Regions from separate parts of the Homo sapiens genome. Here region 2 is linked to region 1. The links come from fine-mapping of genetic effects on gene expression. A gene starts in region 1. The other region holds a variant in brackets. All regions are shown on one strand. Distances are from middle to middle. Region 1 holds the start of F11-AS1 (F11 antisense RNA 1). Region 2 overlaps F11-AS1 (F11 antisense RNA 1).

Region 1 (11,244 bases):
TTACCTGCACTATATCCAAAATTTAGTTCAAAATAGACGCCAGGCATAATATCACACCTAAAACTATAAAATCTTCTAGAATGAAAAAAGAAAAATCTTTGTTAAGCAAAACGAGGTGTAAAATGATGTAATAATTTGGGGGAGCAAAATAAGCAGTTTATTATTAGGTTAAAAATACTCTTACCACACAAGCCAGATAGATACTCCTTTTCTAAGTATTTCCCCCCCCCAACCCAAAATGAAAACATATCCATAAAACTAAACTGCAAATGAATGACACAAGATTTACCTGCACAGTGTCATGGCACTATGGGGCTGGCAAGGTAGTAGCATAGCCATGGTGCCAAGGCAAACTTCTCAAATCTCTCTGTGCTTCAGTCCCTAGAAGGAACTCAGCTACAGGCGATGCCCGATCAGGTTGAGGTTTGGAATGGGCCCTGGATACTGGCATTTTTAAAACTCTTCCCAGGTGGCCGGGCATGGTGGCTCTTGTAATCCCAGCACTTTGGGAGGCTGAAATGGGAGGATGGCTGGAGGCCAGGAGTTTGAGAACAGCCTGAGCAACATAGCAAGATCTCGTCTCAATAAATAAATAAATATTCTTCCAAGGCAATTTTGCTGTGCTGCTGGGTTTAAAGCACTAGCAGGACAAGACAGTCATTGTTTCTAGTATATATGTGAACACATTGCAGGAGGGAATAACATATACAAATTAGCGCTTAAAAACATTCAGGAAGGAACATACAAAGGAGCAAAGAATTATATATTCAACACATGTTTTGTGCTCTAGAAGAAATTAAACAGAACATGGAATCAAACAAAAATTAAAGATAAAATAGGTCAAAAGAGAAATTGGAGAGAAAATAAAGCAAAGGAAGGACAAAACACCATTAGAAACACCCAGGAACAGAATGATCAGCTGCCAGCAAGTCAGTGTCAGCAAGGGAAGATCTGAAATGCTAGCAAAGAGGAAGAAGAAAAAGATTAAAGACATTGAAAGGAAAAGATATGGAGGACAGACAAGATACAAAATAAAGCAAAACATAACATTGCTCTCAAATTTGAAACACGTGACAGGAAAGTGTTAATTTAGAGAGGTAAAATTCAACAGAAAATTAAAAGGCATGAAAATGGCTAATTAATATGTGGAAGGATTCTGTGTAAATTTAGAAAAATGAAAACAATGTATTCAGTTGGTGCAAAAGTAATTGTGGTTTTTGCCGTTAAAACCTCTTTGCAGATCACATCATCGAAAACTGAAAAGATTGATGTGTGGGCAAAGGTGTAAAACTAGAAACTTGAATATAATGTTGAATAAAACTATCATTTTCAATTCAAATACCACTTTACTTCAGCACATTTATCTTACATATACACTCGCAACTAGGAAAGGAATATGGACAAGCAAAGTCACTGTGTCATTTTTAGTCATTGTAAAAACCAGAAAAAATCTAAAGTTTTGTTTGTAAAGGATTGGTTTAAAATCATGGAATATCCATACAATGAAAAAGGTAGGTGTTCACTGGGAAATACAGTAGCTGTCTATGTTGATAGGGAAAGACCTTCAAGATTGCTCAAGTGACACAACGGATATCTAACAATACGTATGAATGCATACCCTCCTGTTAGGGAAACAGGAGCCTAGGAGAGTCAGGGTGACACCACTTTAAAATCAACTCCATCTTAAACCTAATGAGGCACATTCCTTGCCAGTTACCACCTGTATTAGCCTCTTCTCATGCTGTTAATAAAGACATATTCTAGACTGGATAATTCATAAAAGAAAGAGGTTTAATTGACTCCCAGTTCCGCAGGGATGGGGAGGGCTCAGAAAATGTAGAATCATGGCAGAAGGGGAAGCAAACACGTCCTTCTGCACATGGTGGCAGCAAGGAGAAGTACAGCAAGGAGAAGTGTGAAGTGGGGGAAAACCCCTTATAAAGCCATCAGATCTCGTGAGAACTCACGCATTATCACAAGGATAGCATGGAGGTTACCGCCCCCACGATTCGATTACCTCCCACTGGGTCTCTCCCATGACACGTGGTGATTATGGGAACTACAGTTCAAGATGAGATTTGGGTGGGGGATACATGGGTGGGACACAGCCAAACCATGTCACCACCCATGGTCATAGAATGTTAATAGCTGAGAAAAACGCCTAATGCCTGCAAGGACAAACTCTTATGACAGCAAAATGTCCCAATGTCCCAATATCACATAGCAATATATGCTTTTAAAGATAATTATAGTCATGCTGTGGTGTGTTTGTGCACTAAAGTGCCAAGGACAGCTTTCTTTAAACCAACGAGGAATAAATTTTGTCACACCGTCAGCCCACTGGCGTGTAGACATAATGTAGCTTAGCTTTTACATAGATAAGACCCCTATATAAGAAAAACTTAAGACAAAGATGAGGGGTTCCTCCTCTTGCTTTCTGAGGATGCCCTACTTTGTATCTGGGTAGGTTTCAGTAAACTCTCTCTCCTCACTGCACTCTGCAACTCACCTTGAATTCTTTCCTGCACAAGATCCAAGAACTCTTACTTGGGGTCTGGATTGGAACACCTTTTCCTGGCAACACTCCTATTACACTTGAAATTTCAATCGTATGCCTGTATTTCTTCTGTTTCAAATGTTAAAAATTTATATGTTTTCCGTGAAAAAAGAGTTGGAATTTTTTTTAAGTTTTAGCTTTTTATGGAGAAAAATTATTAACTAGAAAATTAGACTATCAGAGAGACTTATAGTTTCACCTCGCTAAGATTTCATTCTCAAACATGGGCCATTACTTTTACTGGAAGTAAAAAATTATATAATTATATTGGAACTAGTGTTGAATAATTTTATTTTTGTTCACATAAAGCAACATGAATAAAATACACAATAACTATAACTTAAATCTGAAATAAGCACTAAAATTATGTGCACAGCATTCATTTTGCTATTCTGCTGCAAACAGAATATTTTCTTTTCATAGCACCTGCAGTGAAGGTCTCAAAGGAGTCTTGCATGGAAGGGCATTGAAGGGGACATGAAATTTTAACTAATACCACGAGCTCACATGCTTCAAACCCAAACTTGCTTATAACCAACCAATGTCACTTCTTAGAGAACAATATTACAGGTTTTTAGTATTGTGCTATTGTTTTTCCTTAAATTATGTTTTGTTATCTGAAATCCCAATTAATGGTTTTAGTTTTTTTTTAATTTTTGTAAGACAGGGTCTTGAACTCCTGGGCTCAAGTGATCCTCCCGCCTCAGCCTCCCAAAGTGCTGGGATTACCGGTGTGAGCCGCCGCACCTGGCTAATGTTTGCTCTGGACACCATAAGACTTGTTAGCATAATCGTAAGGAGACCCTGAAAATACATATTTTAGCTGCTCCCAGAGTCTCTCTGTGTTTCTACAGGACAGTGGGAAACTGATGTAAATAATTAAGAAGCAAATTAATTATTTGTCAGTTACGTACCCATCCTGACTTCCAGCATGGAGACTTAAATGAAAAGCAGAGGCAGCCAGGTGCCAATTACTTTTACAAGCTTCATTCTTAAGTTGAATTAGGAAAGACTAAGATGTAACCAGATGTATGTATTATCAAGTGATGAAAGTTATCTGCTTTTTAAAACACTTTTTGATTTAGTCCTCCTAATTTTCCTATGATTGCAACTCCCAAAAAGAATCATAACATAAAACCTACACCTAAGAAAATTCTGTTCTGATGCAGGGGAAATTCATCTACTTGCAAAAGCACACTGCAGGATTGCAATTCAGATGTCAAGTTAACCTGATGAGTGATTTGAACACACACACACACACACACACACACACACACACACACACTTGCTTTGTAAATTAAAAATCTGGAGCAAGCCACAGAACATGGTCCCTTTCAGAAGGGAGTGTCTTTGTTCTGCATAGCTCCTGTCCTGATGGTGTGGGCACCTCTGAGTGGTCTCTCCATTGTGCTGGACCTGGTTGCTGTAACTAACAATGGGTGGCTCTCCTGGTCTGAAATCTAAAGAGCATGTTAGTCACCTGCAAGCCTGCTCTTATTTAAAAGAGCTGGTTCACCTCCTTTTTTACATCGTCAAATTAGATCCCCTCAGAGAAATGCCAGAATGTTCAGTTGACACATTAACGCTGAATTAAAACTAGCTACAATTTCCAACTTGCAGATGGTGGTGAGACCAAAGGTAATAACAATGAATTTGTCATTCAGCCACAAGGGATTGATGCAGCCAATTAAGGCTACTCTCTGCCCATGAGATTCTGCTCAGGTTTTCTACTCCATCGTGACTAGGGGAGATCACCGGAAGGGATGATTTCTTCCACTTACATCACACAGAACTCCTGCAAAGGGGTTTTCACTCCACAAACACTTGTGATGGCTCTTATTATGTTCCAGACACTGCTTGAAGCCCTCTACAACTATTAACTCATCTAATCCTCCCAACAACGCTTAATGGTGAGTTCTATTACTCCGATCACTTAAGAGGAAACCTGGATGCTAAGTAACTTGTCCAAGGTCACACAGCTAGTGAATGGCACAGCTGGGATGTGAACACAAGCGCTGTGACTTCAGAATCCAGGCTCGCCCTGACTTTGCTACACCACTCCTGTGCCCGAGATAAAGCTGGGTTTCCAATCTCCGCATCGTTCACATTTAGGGCCAAGTAATTATTTGTTGTTGGAGGCTATTCTATACATTGTAGTGTCCCTGGCCTCTACCCACTGGGTCCCTGGAGTAACCCTCCCTCCCCTGAGCTGTGAAAACCAAAAATGTCTTCAGATACTGCCAAATATCTCTTTGGGGACAAAATCATCTCGTTGAGATATCATTCTCTATGTCTATCATAGAAATAGAATGACTAAAAAGAAGAAATAATAGAAAAATGTGGCATTACTAAAAACAATCGTAGTATGTCCGTCTCTGTACATTTTGAGATAGAATTATTAGGAAATATCTCAAAACAGTCCTCTCTTTTTTTGAGACGGAGTCTCTCTCTGCTGCCCAGACTGGAGTGCAATGGCACCATCTCGCCTCACCGCAACCTCCCCCTCCTGGGTTCAAGCGATTCTCGTGCCTCAGCCTCCCGAGTCGCTGGTATTACAGGCACCCACCACCACGCCCGGCTAATTTTTTGTATTTTTTAGTAGAGATGGGGTTTCGCCAAGTTGGCCAGGCTGGTCTTGAACTCCTGACCTCAGGTGATCCACCTGCCTTGGCCTCCCAAAGTGCTGGGATTACAGGCGTGAGCCACTGCGCCCAGGCTCAAAATAGTCCTTCTTTTAGCTTTTATGTTATCTCTCCTTCCTAGCTTTTTTTTTTTTTTTTTTTTTTTTTTTTGGCTTAGGCAGCTAGGAAGCCCAGAGCTCTATCTTCACCTGAAGCCACGAGCATTTGAGGAATTATGTGCTCAATATTGTTAGATGCCGCATATGCACAGAAATAGAGGAAGTTACACGGGTTTCAGCCTCGTTGAAGAAAAGCATCGACAGGGAAATTAGAATCAGTCAAGCAGCCAGAACATATGTAAATGTTACCTTATGCGGCCTGTGGGAATGAAGCACAACAGGACACGTGGGCGCGGTAGTGAGCAGGGCCGGCTCTACTGAGGAGGTCGGTGAGCAGAGTCCGCAGCGGAAAAGGCGAAGGCGACGTGACGTCCAGCAAGCTCGCCATGTTGAGAAGGTAACACGGCGAAGCCCCGCCCAGCTGGGATGGAAGGCGCCGTTGGAAGGAACGTGAGGCACAGTTGGAAGCAGGCAACGGTGGGCGTTGCAGGCTCGTGAACAAGAACAGGAAGCGTGCTCGCTTCGGCAGCGCATGGACTAACATTGGAACGGTACAGGGAAGATCAGCAGGGCCCCTGTGCCAGGACGGCACGCGAATTCCTGAAGTGTTCCAAATAAATAAATGAGTAAGAACAGGAAGTGGTACTGGGCGTTTCAGGAATAATAACGAGCAGCGGGGAACCAGGGCTCTGCGGGGCTCATGGCGAGTTATGGAAGCTGTTACGAATCTGCCTTATGGTGAGGAAGACAGAGATCGAGGTGTTGGCAGTGAAATGGAAAGTAAGGGGTGATTAAGGGAAAATATTTGAAATTGAAGAATTGACAGGGATCCATGGTTTGTTAGACATTGAAAATAATAACAAATGTGGTAGGCTGCTTCTCAGTGAGCTCCCACTATCCCCTTTCTCCTGGGAGCCACACTGCAGTGGAAGCTCTTCCCCCAGTGTGGGCTAGACCTAGTGACTCATTTCTAATGAACAGAATATGGCAGAGTAAGGGGTCACTCTTACAAAAGAATGTGGCTTCCATCTTGGGTGTGAGTGGCCTCCGGGGAGACCCGCATAACAATGAAATGATGTCCCTGGACCAGCCAGAGAGGACCAGAGGACTGTCAGCAGTCCCATGAGCGAGCCTGGATGTGAATGCGTCCCCTGATCCCCGACGTTCAGCTGTGAGATGGCCGCAGCACTGGCCACAGCCTTGACTGCAGCCTTGTAGAGAACCTGGGCCAGAGGATGCTGCTAAGCCACGCCTGGACTCCTGAGCCACAGGGACTGTGAATGGATCAAAGTGTGCTGTTTGAAGCCACTAAATCCAGGGGGCATTAGTTACACAGCAATGGAGAAAAAGTACAACAAGCTTACAAGACAAAAAATAACTTTTATCTCAAACATAGGACACCAGTTTATTCAGTTTACATATTTGGAGATATGGTTTTTCTGAAAATTAACCAAAGGGGGAATGAATAAAGAAAAAGAAACATCAAGGCAAGGAAAGGAAGAGAGCCCACATCTAATAGAGGAAATGTCGTTGCCCTTTTAGTACAGAAGACAGAGATCTCTCTTCCATGGGTAATGGCTCTCCTGTGTTAGCCATCTACTTGCTGTCCCCAGCATTATGCAGCGACATATAACTGGACTATGTTCAGAAAATTAAAATGACATATTCAAGGTAAATATCTAGGAACATTTCAGCCCTTAGGAAGTAGAAGAAATACCTCCTGTTACAATCTCCATATTTTCTAATAGATAATGCAACTCATTCTGCTACACATCAGCTAGTTAACTAGCAACACTTTTTCCAGTGCTGACCAGTGCAGGAGTTCTTTGAAAGAATTACTTGTTTCAAAGAGGTCGAAGTGCAGAGTACAATGGTGATTGCCAGGAGTTGGAGGCATGGGGCATGGGGAGAGGTTGGTCAAAGGGAGGATAGTCTCAGTCAGATAAGATGAGTGTGTTCTGAAGATCTATGTATGAGACGGTGCTGTCAATAATAATGTATTATTGTATACTTGAAATTGTTAAGAGACAAATGTTCTCACCACAAGAAAAACCAATAACTATGTAGGTGATGGATGTTAATTACTTTGACTGTGGTAACCGTTTCACAGTGCGTGCATATATCAAAACTTCCCATTGTGCGCTGTAAATATACACAATCTTTATATCTCGATAAAGCTAGGATGGGAGAAGGAAACACTTATAAATCACAGCACACTTGAAGGAAAGAGGAACAGACACCTATTTCAACATGTAAGATCACAACAGAAAGAAGAATGTGAGTTCCATGAAGGCAGGCATTTGCCTTGTTCTCGTCATAGTCCCAGGCCCTGGCGCGTGTTAGATGGTCCCTAGTGATGAGGTGAGTATAATTAATAATGGAGACTAATACCCAGGGTCCTTAACTATATGCACAAAGCAAACACACTTTATCCTCTATGTAATTCTATATTAATTAGCACTCTTAGTTTATAAGCTTACTAACCATGTCTTGATGAGTGATTCTGTTATCCAAACTTTCAAGCCCATTGCCAGAAACCAAAGCTATTGGTCAGTGTGTTAGTGGTCTCCAGGGAAACAGGAGCAATGGGATGCACGTGGTGGGTAATTTCACATGTCAGCTTGGCTGCACCAGGATGCTCAGATATTTGGTCAAATGTTATTCTGGATATTCCTGTGAGGGTGTTTTTGGATGAGACTGACGTTTCAATGGGTGAACATTGAGTAAAGCAGACTTCCCTCCATAATGTTGGGGGGGCTCATCTGAGCAGCTGAAGGCCTGAATGAAACAAAGGCTGATATCCCCCAAACAAGACGTGCTTCCGTAGCAGATGGCTGCCAGCGTTAACTGCAGCAGTGCCTCTTGGTCTCCAGCCTGCTGGCCCATTCTAGATGCTGGACTTGCTAGCCTCCACAGTCTTGTGAGCAAATTCCTCAAAATAGATCTCTCTCTCTCTCTGTACATTGTATTGCTTCTGTTTCTCTGGAGAGCCTTAACACAATGTGTGTGTGTGTGTGTGTGTGTGTGTGCACATGCACATATAGAGAGTTTTTTGAAATAATTTTTAATTATTTTTTAATACTTTTATTTTAGAGATGGGGTCTCACTGTGTTGCCCAGACGGGTCTCAGATGGGCTCAAGCAATCCTCCCACCATGGCTTCCCAAAGTGCTGGGATTACAGGCATGAGCCACTGTGCCCAGCCTAAAGAGATGTATTTTAAGGGAAGATCTGGTTCTGCAGTTCAAGTCTGAAGGCCACCTGCTGACAGAATCCCCTTTTCTCAGAGGGCGGTCGATTTTCTCTTAAGCCCTTCTTCAACTGACTGGATGAAGGCTGCCCACATAATGGAGGGGAATTGGCTTCCTCAAAGCCTACTGATTTAAATGTTAGTCTCATTTTAAATATATCCTTACAGAAACATCTGGAATAACGTCTGACCAAATATCTGGGTACAGTGATCCAGCCAAGTTGAGACATGAAATTAATCACCATGGCCTACATTTTTATCTGTTTGGCTGCAATTCTGTCAAAGGCTTCTGCTCTTCATAACATTTCACTCACTAGCTCCATGAAGCCATATGATACAAACCTTGCCTGTGTAGCCTTCACTTTTTTCCAAAAGAAGTCTATTAAATGCCAATCAAGTATCTTCTCCTCCAAGCTCAGTAGCTCGGGCCTTCAACAGCTGTTCCCCATTCCGATCCATCTCCCTGAGCTACCCTGGCATTCTTATCAGGACACTGGAGGAATCTATGTATGTGCCTCTAAAGATTCAGCACCCAAACATGATAGAAATCACTGTGTTCACACTGTATCTCTATATCTGCCCATCCCTTTAAATCAGTCCAATAAACCAGATTAGAATCAGTAATAGGACTCAGCTGCTTTCTTTATACCGTTGATGGTTCTGGTTTAAGGACCATCAATGGTATAAAGAAGGCAGCTGAGTCCTATTACTCAGCTGCTGTGTATAAAGAAGGGAGAATGGTTTGAGGATGCTAGACATCCAGCTGACATCCAGCTAACATCCTCAAACCATTTTCCTTTAACTTCTAACCAAAATGCCAAGAAAATCAGGGGGGCAAGGTTAACATTAACAACATACGACAGACCACCTAGTGTCAGACTGTGCATGGTGTTCGCGATAATAATAACAAAGATGAAGCTTGCCTGAGAAAAATCTTGGCCAGAATTCAGCACATCCTACCTAAGGACAGTCCATCAGAAACAGACCACTTGGAAAAGCTGAAAGTGTTTGTTTTCTGAAACCGAAGTACCTGTAGCAACCGGCCCAAGGTTCTGGAGAACAGAATTAATAAAAGGAATCAAACTTATGCTATTTTAGAAGGTTTCTTTAAGAACCCCATAGTGTGGCCGGGCACAGTGGCTCATGCCTGTAATCCCAGCATTTTGGGAAGCGAAGGCGGGCGGATCACGAGGTCAGGAGTTTGAGACCAGCCTGGCCAATATGGTGAAATCCCGTCTCTACTAAAACTACAAAAATTAGCTGGGCATGGTGGTGTGTGCCTGTAGTCCCAGTTACTTGGGAGGCTGAGGCAGGAGAACTGCTTGAACCCGGGAGGTGGAGATTGCAGTGAGCCGAGATCACGCCGCTGCACTCCAGCCTGGGAGACAGAGGGAGACTCTGTCCCCACCCCCCGAAGAAAAGAACCCCATAGTGCAATTATATGTATCCAGGACCCAACCCAGAAATGAGAGGAGGAGGTGCCTGCCCACTGGGAGTGTCAGCAGAGGGCTTTGCTTCATTCTACTCTCCAAGACCCTTACATCTAACCTGCTCCCCCTGACATCCAGGCCTCTTCATCTGAGGCCAAATCACTATTGCCATGCAGCTTAGGCTTGCATGCAATAATGACTTGCTTATACATTTTTGTAAATGTGCACTTAGGTCTAATTAACGATTTTCCTGTGGACAGGTGATAGACCTGTGCAGATTCTTTTTTTTTTTAAGATGGAGTCTCACTCTATCGCCCAGGCTGGAGTGCAGTGGTGCGATCTTGGCTCACTGCAAGCTCCGCCTCCCGGGTTCATGCCATTCTCCTGCCTCAGCCTCCCAAGTAGCTGGGACTACAGGCACCCATTACCACATCCAGCTGATTTTTTGTATTTTTAGTAGAGACAGGGTTTCACCATGTTAGCCAGGATGGTCTCGATCTCCTGACCTCGTGATCCGCCCGCCTCAGCCTCCCAAAGTGCTGGGATTACAGGCGTGAGCCCCCTCGCCCGGCCCCTGTGCAGATTCTTTTGGTCATTTTTGTTTGGTCCATGGTTCATTCTGTAACATTCTAAACTCTTGCCAAGCTGCAGTGAGCAGGTTCTCTATTTGCCTTCTATCTGCTAGTCATCTTTCAGTGCTGTCTATCTCTTATAGGATGGCACAGAATAACTTCCCTCAGCCACAGTTGAAGCACCTCTACACTTATGCATAAATCAGCTATATATTAGCCAGGTGTAGTGGTGTGTACCAGTAGTTCTAGCTATCTGGAAGGCTGAGACAGGAGGATTGCTTCAGCCCAGGAGGTCAAGTCTGCAATGAGCTATGATTATGCCACTGCATTCTAGCCTGGGCAACAGAATGAGACCCCATCTCTTAAAAAAAAAAAAGTCAGCTGTATGTCTGTATCCCCTTCCTCAATCCATGCCCCTATTATTGCCCTTTCCACACCAATTCTATTCCTGCCCTCCCTCCATCAGCCTCAAATTTTTAGAGCTTGCACAGACCAAATAGTAGAGTTATCTCTCTCTACTGTATTGCTATGTGAAAATGACAGACGGTGGTTTCTTTCTCCCATTTCCAGTCCCATCTTTTCAACACCTAGACAGCACCTACAAATCCTAGGATAGAAAAGTGGAGAGTAACCTACATGGAATCCATGGAAAAGCTAGTATTTCAGAAAAAAATAAATGGGGGATCATCTAGGAAT
Region 2 (11,244 bases), 74 kb before region 1:
ATGACAGTATCTTTGTCCAAAAAGCAGATGCAGAAGCAGCATAATCCACAGAAATTTTCAATTTCATTTGCTACCCAGCGGCTCAAATCCATTATATGTTAAGTATTGTTCCAGGGCTTCAGCCTCCCCGGCAGATTTCTCCTGTTTTTGCTGTTGCTGCAGGGACTGGCCCCGTCTTCTGAGGACCAGGCCTCCACGGTGGCTGCACACCTCTGCTTTAAATACTTTTAAAGTTGCAGAAAAGGACCTTCTTGAAGCAAAAAAGACACCGTCCTCTTCTGCATGGGCCAATGCTCAACATACACATGCATGGAAAAAAATTTCCAGGAAGTGATAAACTAAGCATGGGGCAAATAAAACAACACATGACCTGATTTCATCTCCAAGTTTGCTCTTGTGTAGGAAAAGATAAGCATTTCTTTCAATGTTAAGTTGGGGTGGTATCTAATAAATCAGAATGAAAACTCAGGTTTCATAAAAGCAGTGATTTCTCTTCCAGAGAGGGCTCTGAATACATTGTTACTTACTTGAACATGCTGTCCTTCAAGGTAGGAGCTGAGGCAGGGCCTACACCTGTAATCCCAGCACTTTGGGAGGCCAAGGTGGGAGGATTGCTTGAGCCCAGGAGTTTGAGGCCAGCCTGGGCAACATAGTGAGACCCAGCCTCTACCAAAAAAAAAAAAAAAAAAGAAAAAGAAAAATTAGCCAGACATGGTGATGCTTGCCTGTAGTCCCAGCTACCGGAGAAGCTGAGGTGGGAGGATCACTGGAGTCCAGAAGGCAGAGATTGCAGTGAGCCGGGATCACGCCACTGCACTCTAGCCTGGGCAACAGAGCGAGACCCTGTCTCAAACAAATAAAACAAAGTAGAAGATGATATCCAAGCCATTTGTGATTTGTTCTGACCTTCCAATCTATGATTTAGGTATTGATTTAGAATGCATTTTATTCATCCTATAAAAATCTCTGCCAATTATTCTTTTTTTTTTTTTTTTTTTTTTGAGATGGAGTCTGGCTTTGTCATCCAGGCTGGAGGGCAGTGATGTGATCTTGGCTCACTGCAACCTCCGCCTCCTGGGTTCAAGTGATTCTCCTGCCTCAGCCTCCCGCGTAGCTAGCTGGGATTACAGGTGCCCACCACTACGCCTGGCTATTTTGTGTATTTTAGTAGAGACACAGTTTCGCCATGTTGGCTAGGCTGGTCTTGAACTCCTGACCTCAAGTGATCCTCCTGCCTTGGCCTCCCAAAGTGCTGGGATTACAGGTGTGAGCCACCACGCCCTCACAGAACAATGTATTCCTTAACTTTTTATATGCTTTTTTTAGATTGAAAAATTTCAAAATTATAAGCAAATTTAATGCTTGAAATTGGACATCAGCATTGAGCTGGAGAAAAATCAATGGTTCCTTCTGATGTGAAAGGAAGCAACAATATATAAATACAGGTCTATGTCTTCATTTCTCCTTGTAACAAAAATGGGGTATTCAGTGTTGAAAATTTCCTTAGGCAATTCCCCAAACAACTACTTAAAAATACCCAGAGTTGGCCACTTGTTCTGTGCCTACATCAGACTCCAAAAAAGGAACAAACACTTTCAGCAATGGTGATTGACCCTCCTATAAGTTTCTCTCATTTTAAAACATGGGAAAATCATCACTTCTCACTCAATAGAAGAGGTTAGGTTTAGGGCCGTGCTATGTTTATTTTATTGCTACTATGTAAGCCAACTTTGATTCTGGCCAGAACGATCAGCTTATGTTTATATCAGCTTTAACAAGATCCATAACTGTTTTCCCTCTTCACTAGCCTGGCTATATGTGGGATACAAACTTCTGTGCTTCTCACAAGGAAAAAAAAATCCAATTTCAAAGACTCAGGTCTAACCACTCAGGTGACTTTAAAATCAAATTATTCTATAGAATTTTACAGGGTGACAGCATATTTGTTGAATGATATGATATTGATGTGTACATGAATTTTTAGTTGGAGACTAAAATCTGTTTTAGAAATAGATCCAGTGCTTTTTAGAAAATACTTAAATTTTTCCCATTGATCATATAGTTCCCTAAAGTTTTAGCTTTTTAAAAAATCTAAATGGCATTATGCTTTTAAAGAAAGGAAAGTGGAACGTTTGATTATGAAATGTAGGGAATGCTAATGTTTTATAGTTTATGTCTTCAAGAATCAGTTTTTAAGTTTTTTTTTTGTTTTTGTTTTTTTTTTTAAGACACAGTCTCGTTCTGTCGCCCAGGCTGGAGTGCAGTGGCGCAATCTCGGCTCACTGCAAGCTCCGCCTCCCGGGTTCAAGCGATTCTCCTGCCTCAGCCTCCTGAGTAGCTGGGACTACAGGTGTCCACCACTACGTCCGGCTAATTTTTGTATTTTTAGTAGAGACAGGGTTTCACCATGTTGGCCAGGATGGTCTTGAACTCCTGATCTCGTGATCTGCCCACCTAGGCCTCCCAAAGTGTTGAGATTACAGGCGTGAGCCACCGTGCCTGCCCCAGTTTCTAACATTTTTTATAACCATCATACAATTGAAACAAGGTGCAACTGGACTCACGAGGTCATGGGTCAATTTCCTGTGAGTGTGGGCTTAGACCGTCCAGCTTGTTCTCCTGCCACCCACTCTTAGCATGGAAGGACGAAGCGGGTGACAATCAGCCAACATGTGCTCAAATAGCTAGATGTTCGATACTGAGTAGAAAAATCCTTACACATCAGCTGAGTTTTTCCATGTTTACCCATATATTTTGGCATAGAATGAACTAAATCTGTGATTTTTCAGCATGTTATGGTTGTAGAGTTCATGAACTATTATTCCATCTTGGGAATACTTTGAGAAGTAAAAGTAAATTTTATTATTGCAAAAGATGCAGTAATATTTAGTATTTTGTTTTAAAAGTCAAAACTTACTCAGCAAATGCACGGCATACAGATGGTGAAGAGGTGATTCAGTAAAGTTTTGGTTTCAAGAAATCCTGGCCCACCTAAGTAATCTCCAGCATAGCAAGGTTTATCTTAAAGATAAAAAAGGATCAAAAGGCCCTTGAGAATTAGGCAGCTACCCCCTCTGTCTCCCTCTCCCTCGTGCAAGATTATCTGCTCCCCACCTATGACTGCTCTCTCCCTTTCCTCAGAGTGGATTCTTCCCCACAGCCACTTGTACTGGCCTCACATGGTCACCTGTGCCCCACTTTATCATGGCTCACTGGCCCCTCTTATCATTTTCTCCCTCCCAGATTATTGACAGATGAATGGGATTTTCACAGTTTACCTTTTCAATGTGGCTCTGTATCCTTAGCAAACCTATGGATTCTCTGCCAGTGGCAGAATAGAGACAGTTGCAAACTCTTTTCTTCTCCCATCGAAAGATGAAGTCTGATTTCCCTCTCCTTAACACTGGCTTTGCCTTTGAGATTTGCTTGATGCATAGAATACAAGAGAAGTAACTCAGAAGAAGAACTTCCAAGGTTAGGTCAGAAGGAGCCTCGCAACTTCTATCTGGGTCTCTGGTAGAACCACACTCTTGCCCTTGGAACCATGAGCTGCCACTTTGCTAGAAAGACCTTGTGAAAAGGCTCTTGGACAACACAGATAGGAGAGGAGTCCAGCTGAGTCTTGCCTTCCTATGCCCCCGCCAAGGTGCCAGCTACAGGAGTGAAGCTATCTTGGACCCTTCAGACCAGATCAGCTATCAGCTGAATACCATCCACCATCCTGAGTCAATGCCACGTGCAACAGCATCACCCACAGGAGCACTACCCAAATCTCTGACCCACAGAATGATGAAATTTAATACAATGGTTGTTTTAAGCCACTAAGTTTTAGGGTAGTTTGCGATGCAGCAGCAGATGCAACGCCTCTGTTCACAGCGGCTAAGACTCAAAGGGACGCAAACCAAGCAACCTACGTCTACCCCAGCAAGGACAGTGGGTAGAAATTTCCTTACAGAAAAGACTGCATGTCATCAGGAATCATAACTGAAATCTCTCAGTTAATTCCTATCCTAAATTTCCCTCGAGGATATAACAAGGAGAAACAGTATTAAGTTACAGCTAGACTCTGGTGGGATTTAGATTAAAAATATAAAAGTACATCTAGATGCTAGATGAGACTAGTGACGTCACGAACCAGACTGAAACTTAATCACATTAAGAAGCAGGTAATCATATTCAAACGAGATTTGTACTTGGTAACTTAAGGATAATTACATCTCAAAGCCAAGGACTATCTTTGTCAATCTCATGTTTTCATGATCAGCTGAAGCAGAGAAATTAATACATTTTAATGATGAAACTTAGCCTACATGTATTTTGTAGATATTCACTTAGAAGTGAAAAATATGATGTAAAATCAGTTATGTGTAGATATTTTTGGAGAAAAAACCTTAAAACTTAGAAACCAGTTACATAGTCATTATTAACTTAAAACAGATCATACTGATATATTTCTCATATTTCATGCCCTTCCTTAAAGACAATGATTTTTTCTCAAACATCAAACATTTCAGCCTTTACATATTTCTCCAGAAACCACCACAAGCATCCATATAGTGTGTTTACTGTCAGGTTTATTCTGACTTGCCTTCACAACAGTTGACTCTCAGTTTAGCTTGTTGATTCACAGAAAAAAAAACCTGAATGCCACCAAGAAATTTCCAAGAATTGTTAAAAAAAATTAAATGTGAAAAGAAGAACCTCTGATCCTTACTCAATGTGTTCTCTATTTTTCCCTCGGACTAATTAAGAAAAGCATGTTAATTATAATGGATTCCAAATGTGCTAACCTCCAGTTAGTATTTTTTAAAGTATTGACTATTTTGGCCAGTCCAAGATTGCCTATTAGATTATAAGCTCCTCTGAGACCCAGAGGCCATGCCTTTGTTGTCATTGACCAGAAAGGGAGAAAGAGTAAATCTCTGTTCATTTTGGGGGGTGTGATAACTCCCATTTCAGGTGTGCTGAAGGTGGCAGTGATGGACATTTGCTGTTTTTACCATCTAGCATCTGTTTATTGCTTTTTTCTCTCTTTTTTTTTTTTTTTTTTTTGAGACACAGTCTCACTCTGTCACTCAGGCTGGAGTGCAGTGGCCTGATCTCGGCTCACTGCAAGCTCTGCTTCCTGGGTTCACGCCATTCTCCTGCCTCAGCCTCCTGAGAGGCTGGGACTATAGGCACCTGCCACCAAGCCTGGCTAATTTTTTTGTATTTTTTTAGTAGAGACGGGGTTTCACTGTGTTAGCCAGGACGGTCTCGACCTCCTGACCTCGTGATCTGCCTGCCTCGGCCCCACAAAGTGCTGGGATTATAGGCGTGAGCCACTGTGCCTAGCCTGCTTATTGCTTTTTTCAAACTAGCTTCTCCTTGAGGAGAACAGCCTTCCCTATTTCATCCATCTGATTTGGGTGGACAGAAGACCTACCTCCAACTGCAAGGATGAGACGTCACGGGCTTCAGTTGATCAACACAGCTCAGCACCTTTGCAGACAGATTTGCTTAGAAATGTCCAAATAGTCTATAGCCAAGGTGGTATGTTTTAGGGCTTCTGAATAAATAAGAGCTTTTATTCTCCGGCTTGCAGGAGCTCCTGAAAAGCAATCTCCTTCTTCTCCTGAGTGTGATGTTGAAGATCTGTAACTACAGTCACCAGTTTGCCGCCAGGTGGGAACACCAGTTGGGAACAACA[C/T]GGGCCTGCGAGGGATGCCGCTGAAAGCAGGAAAGATTAGTGACACAGACAGAAGCTGGACGAAGTCTCACCTCAGGTGCACATCTGGGCTTCGCAATTTTATGAACCTGTAAGTTCTCTGATTCCAAAGGTGAGTTGTATTTTGGCTTATGTTTTGCAGCTGAAAGATTTCTAACTTCTTTTCCACCACAGAATCTTTGAATGATTTAGATATAAACTTCAAGCTCCATTTAGGTCAGTGATTTTTGTCTGTATTGTTCACTGATGAATCCCACTGCCTTGAGCACAGCCTGGCAATATTAGGTGCTCAGTGAATATCTGTTGATAAAACGCGCAAAGTTGGTTCAGCCTTTAAGAAGATGAATGTTGTTAATAACACATGCCTAATGAAAGAATCTGAGTACATATTCCTAGAATACACACATAAAATTTAAAACACCTAAAAATGCTTAAATACATTTAAAAAAACAAAAAACAAAACTATAACGATTGGTGAGATTCAGCCAGTAGTGTGTTGGAGCTGGCTTGTCCTGGCTTTGGAGACTGAGCTGTATACATCTCCTCCTGATTCCGCATCCAGTGTCTTCATGTTGGCAGCCTGAAATTGACCAGAGGGGGCATTTATACCATGGTAATCGGCAAACACTGCAAATGAGGGGTTTATTTCCTCTCCTCTGCCCTACCCTCCCAGAGAGCCAGTTCAGCATTATTTTTCCTAGAAAAACCTTTTAGTGAGGTGAACACTTTCTTTTAAAAAAATAAAATCTTCCCATTTCAGAGCTGGAAGGAAACTCTGAAGTTTTCGACTTCGGTATCCTAAGTTGACAGGCGAGGAATCTCTCCATGAGCTAAGTTACGGAGGTGACAGCACACCCCGGACCCTCAATTTGCAAGATCCAAATCACACAGCCACTCCGCAAGAAAAAGCGTGGGAAATAATCCAAACACATGCGTCTCTAGCGAGATGCCAGGCATTTGTTGGGGAAAATATGTCCCTCCAATTATATGATGTCAGGGATCACTCTAGATGGGGTTTGTGTGGGTCAAATGTGGTACCAGGACCCCTAGATCTGGCCAGGCCTATCCCAGGCTCACTGTCCTGCAGGGACTAAATACCCAGCCGCAGCCTAGTGTGCTATCTCTGTAGGTTGTGTGAAATGACTCAACATTTCCTGCTCTTTCTCAAAGGTAAACTCACACCAGCCCTTGCGCGGCAGGCCAATTCTCCCTGACGATCACACAGACAGGCCTGCATGACGGTCACACAGACAGGCCTCCTGACGATCACACAGACAGGCCTCCTGACGGTCACACAGACAGGCCTCCTGATGGTCACATAGACAGGCCTGCATGACGGTCACACAGACAGGCCTCCTGACGGTCACACAGACAGGCCTGCATGACGGTCACACAGACAGGCCTCCTGACGGTCACACAGACAGGCCTCCTGATGGTCACACAGACAGGCCTGCATGACGGTCACACAGACAGGCCTCCTGATGGTCGAACAGACAGGCCTCCTGACAGTCACACAGACAGGCCTGCATGACGGTCACACAGACAGGCCTGCATGACGGTCACACAGACAGGCCTCCTGACGGTCACACAGACAGGCCTCCTGACGATCACACAGACAGGCCTCCTGACGATCACACAGACAGGCCTCCTGACGGTCGCACAGACAGGCCTGCATGACGGTCACACAGACAGGCCTCCTGATGGTCGAACAGACAGGCCTCCTGACGGTCACACAGACAGGCCTCCTGACGGTCACACAGACAGGCCTCCTGATGGTCGAACAGACAGGCCTCCTGACGGTCACACAGACAGGCCTCCTGACGGTCACACAGACAGGCCTGCATGACGGTCACACAGACAGGCCTCCTGATGGTCACACAGACAGGCCTGCATGACGGTCACACAGACAGGCCTCCTGACGATCACACAGACAGGCCTCCTGACGATCACACAGACAGGCCTCCTGACGGTCGCACAGACAGGCCTGCATGACGGTCACACAGACAGGCCTCCTGATGGTCACACAGACAGGCCTGCAGAGCGCTCCAGTTACACAGATAGATTTCCACAGCACGGCCGTCACATGGAACGAATAGTTAAACCTAGGGAAATCAGTGCCCAGACGTCAAAGCTAGAAATGAAACATAAGACGGTCAGTAGGAGCCTTACATGGCCTTCTCCCTAACCTGGAGCAAGCTGAAATAATAGACAGTTTTACATTCCTAGTGCCAGGACCCGTCTCGGGTCGACAAAATCTGAGACGAGTCAAGGTAACAGAGGCAGCTGTTTGAATAGATTCATTGGAGGGTCTAAGGTAGCTCTCTGGGCCAAGCTGTAAAGGAGATGAAGTAGAAATGATCACTCCGGTGCCACAGTAGACGGGCCTTGAAGGTACTGGGGCCTCACAGCTCAATCGAACTTAGGAAGCATTTCTTTGCCTCTGACCTTCTAGTTGAAACAAAATTCGTTACCAATAGACTTAGGCAATGCTATACTGCACGCAGGCGCATAACCTCAACCTATATTAGCACTAAGAAAATTGTAACACTTTGAGTTGGTCTGGTGGAATTCTCTCTGGCCTTCTCCCTGCATCCGGTTACAGCAATAAATTCCCTTCTTTCCTAGTTTGTCTGCTTCTTATTATTGGGCCCCAAGAAAACGCAGCGAGACCCAGCTTGGTTCTGCGAACACTTGTGCACCAGAATCGAAGGTAAGGCAATAAAAGACCTTGATCTTTATTATATCCTGCGAGCCAAGAATAATGACTGTCTTTTTCTGGGAAATAAAATAAATAAATAAACACACATAAGAAGAGATGGAGAAAATTATCTCAAATTTCCAAAAAAAAAAAAAAAAAATCTCGTTTTCCCTCACCTGAAGATGATAAAACAAGGCATTAAAGTAGCACAGACTGATGATCCTGGTGTAATGCAGGCTGTGTATCTTGGTTTTCCCTGTAAGGTACCCTGCCAGCTCCCAGCTAGGACTCTAGGCATCCTCCACACTCCTCCCTGCCCCAGGCACGTTTCCTTGATGCTGCGAGGAGCACGTGGAAGGAATAAGGGCATTGCGGTTCACTGCCGTCCCAGAAAAGCTGCTGTCCCTGTCGCTGATGTCTAAGAGTAGTCTGGCACTGGCTGGGAGTGGTGGCTCACTCCTGTAATCCTAGCACTTTGGGAGGCCGAGGCGTGTGGATTGCCTGAGCTCAGGAGTTCAATACCAGCCTAGGTAAAACGGTGAAACCCCATCTCTATTAAAATACAAAAAAAAAAAATAGCTGGGTGTGGCGGCGTGTGCCTGTAATCCCAGTTACTTGGGAGGCTGAGGCAGGAGAATTGCTTGAACCTGGGAGGCAAATATTGCAGTGAGTCGAGATCAAGCCATTGCACATTGCACTCTAGCAGCCTGGGCAACAGAGTGAGACTCCATCTCAAAAAAAAAAAAAAAAAAAAAAAAAGAGTAGTCTGGCACAACTGTAAAAGCAGTGTAACCCTGATTATGTCAACTTTGTGTGGATAAATCAGGTGTTATTTTCTTTATGGGATTTTTTTTTTTTGAGGCGGAGTCTCGCTCTGTTGCCCAGGCTGGAGTGCAGTGACACGATCTCAGCTCACTGCAAGCTCCGCCTCCTGGGTTCATGCCATTCTCCTGCCTTAGCCTCCTGAGTGGCTGGGACTACAGGTGCCCACCACAATGCCCAGCTAATTTTTTTATATTTTAGTAGAGACGGGGTTTCACCGTGTTAGCCAGGATGGTCTTGATCTCCTGACCTCATGATCCGCCCTTTTACCCATACTTAGTTTTTGTTTTCCTTCCAGAGGAAAGAAGAAACAAATGCCAATCTAAAAACATATGGAGTTTCTATAGTCAGTCTATTTTTTCTTGGCCGATCGTTTGATCAGTAATAACTTTGCACTTAGCATGACCTAGGTAATGACATTATTTCTATCATTATTGCATTTTCCCTATTTGGATAATCAATTAAGTCAACAGTATTTAGAATTTTGCTGCTCAGACTGAGTCACTGGAAAAAAAAAAATAAGCCAGTGAAAATATAGACCCCAGATTAGAGGCCCAGTCGGGATCAGGCCGTGGCTGACGAAGTGGAGTGGAAGCCGCAAGAACAGGGAGAGGCTCCTGCGCTGACCCAGGGAAGTGTGCTCCGGCAGGCGCTGCATCTCTCCTTTGCTCAGACACCCAATGCTTGAATGCTTGGAACAACTGTCTTCTTCTTTTTCTTTTCTTTTTTTTTTTTTTTTTTAGAAGGAATTTCACTCCTGTTACCCAGGCTGGAGTGCAATGGCGCGATCTTAGCTCACTGCAACCTCCGCCTCCCGGGTACAAGTGATTCTCTAGCCTCACTCTCCCCAGTAGCTGGGATTACAGGCATGCGCCACCATGCTCGGCTAATTTTGAATCTTTTTTTTTTTCAATGGAGATGCGGTTTCTCCATGTTGGTCAGGCTGGTCTCGAACACCTGACCTCAGGTGATCCACCCATCTCGGCCTCCCAAAGTGCTGGGATTACAGGTGTGAGCCACCACGCACGGCTTTTTTTTTTTTTTTTTTAGATGGAGTTTTGCTCTTGTCACCCAGGATGGAGTGCAGTGACACAATCTCTGCTCACCGCAACCTCCACCTCCCAGGTTCAAGTGATTCTCCTGCCTCAGCCTCCTGAGTAGCTGGGATTACAGGTGCCACCATGCCCAGCTAATTTATTTACTTAATTATTGTATTTTTAGTAGAGATGGGGTTTCACCATGTTGGCAAGGCTTGAACTCCTGTCCACAGGTTATCCACCTGCCTTGATATTTAAAAAATATCTACTGTAAAAATGTGCTTAGTGAGGAACACGTATGCACGCTGGCTAGAGAGAATCAAAATAGGCTCTGCATCAATTACTCAAATTAGTCCAGAAACTGTTCTACAAACGAGCACTGGACTTGGAGAAGCCCACGCCAGCCCTTGACATCCGGGTTACTACAGGAAAACTGCCTGCCTCCCAGGGCTCTTGTTTTCTAATCTTGAAATGAGGAATTGGAGTAAGAAACTCTAGTACCCATTCGTATTTTAACATTTATTGGTTCTGAATGTTCTTACCTCCTTGTAGTGCTGAGCCAGTTTCTGCAGATAATCTAATATGCATATTTCCATCAGCCCCAAAAGGCAGGTCTGCTGGAAGAGTGGAGGAAGGACAGGCGCTCATCGAGTAATCGCCAAGGAGAGGCATTTAGATATTCCGGCTACTTAACTTAGAAAATTAATATTAAGTATCATTAGCATTGGCATGATTGTTCAAATGACATTATCAATTTCTAATAAATAGATCAAAAACTCATGCATGGATTCAGCAGTTATTCAGTAGGTGTCAAATGGTCTGTGTTCAAATATTTGAAGTCTAGCGGTGGGGGTACTATTTAAGACATCACAAGACAGTACTGTATCAACAGCAAATAAGCTGGTTAGTTCAGGGAAGAGGAGAGTTCATCTGGATGTGTGTATTTCATAAGGTCCCGATGGGGACAGCGGCACTCATAC

What was found. PIP is the estimated chance that this variant, and not a neighbour inherited with it, causes the effect.
Region 2: its variant is fine-mapped to the expression of F11-AS1 in testis (GTEx, PIP 0.99).

What each region holds. Positions count from the first base shown.
Region 1 is chr4:186,495,299-186,506,542 of GRCh38, forward strand. F11-AS1 (F11 antisense RNA 1) reads right to left here and starts at 5,760. Exons shown (of 4, transcript NR_033900.1): 1 at 5,547-5,760. It also overlaps the pseudogene RNU6-1055P.
Region 2 is chr4:186,420,812-186,432,055 of GRCh38, forward strand. The region is part of intron 1 of F11-AS1 (F11 antisense RNA 1); the gene reads right to left. Among named protein-coding and RNA genes, the nearest start is that of F11-AS1, 75 kb to the right of the region's middle. RefSeq lists an enhancer at 7,023-7,562. The variant C/T (reference allele first, on the strand shown) is at 5,690.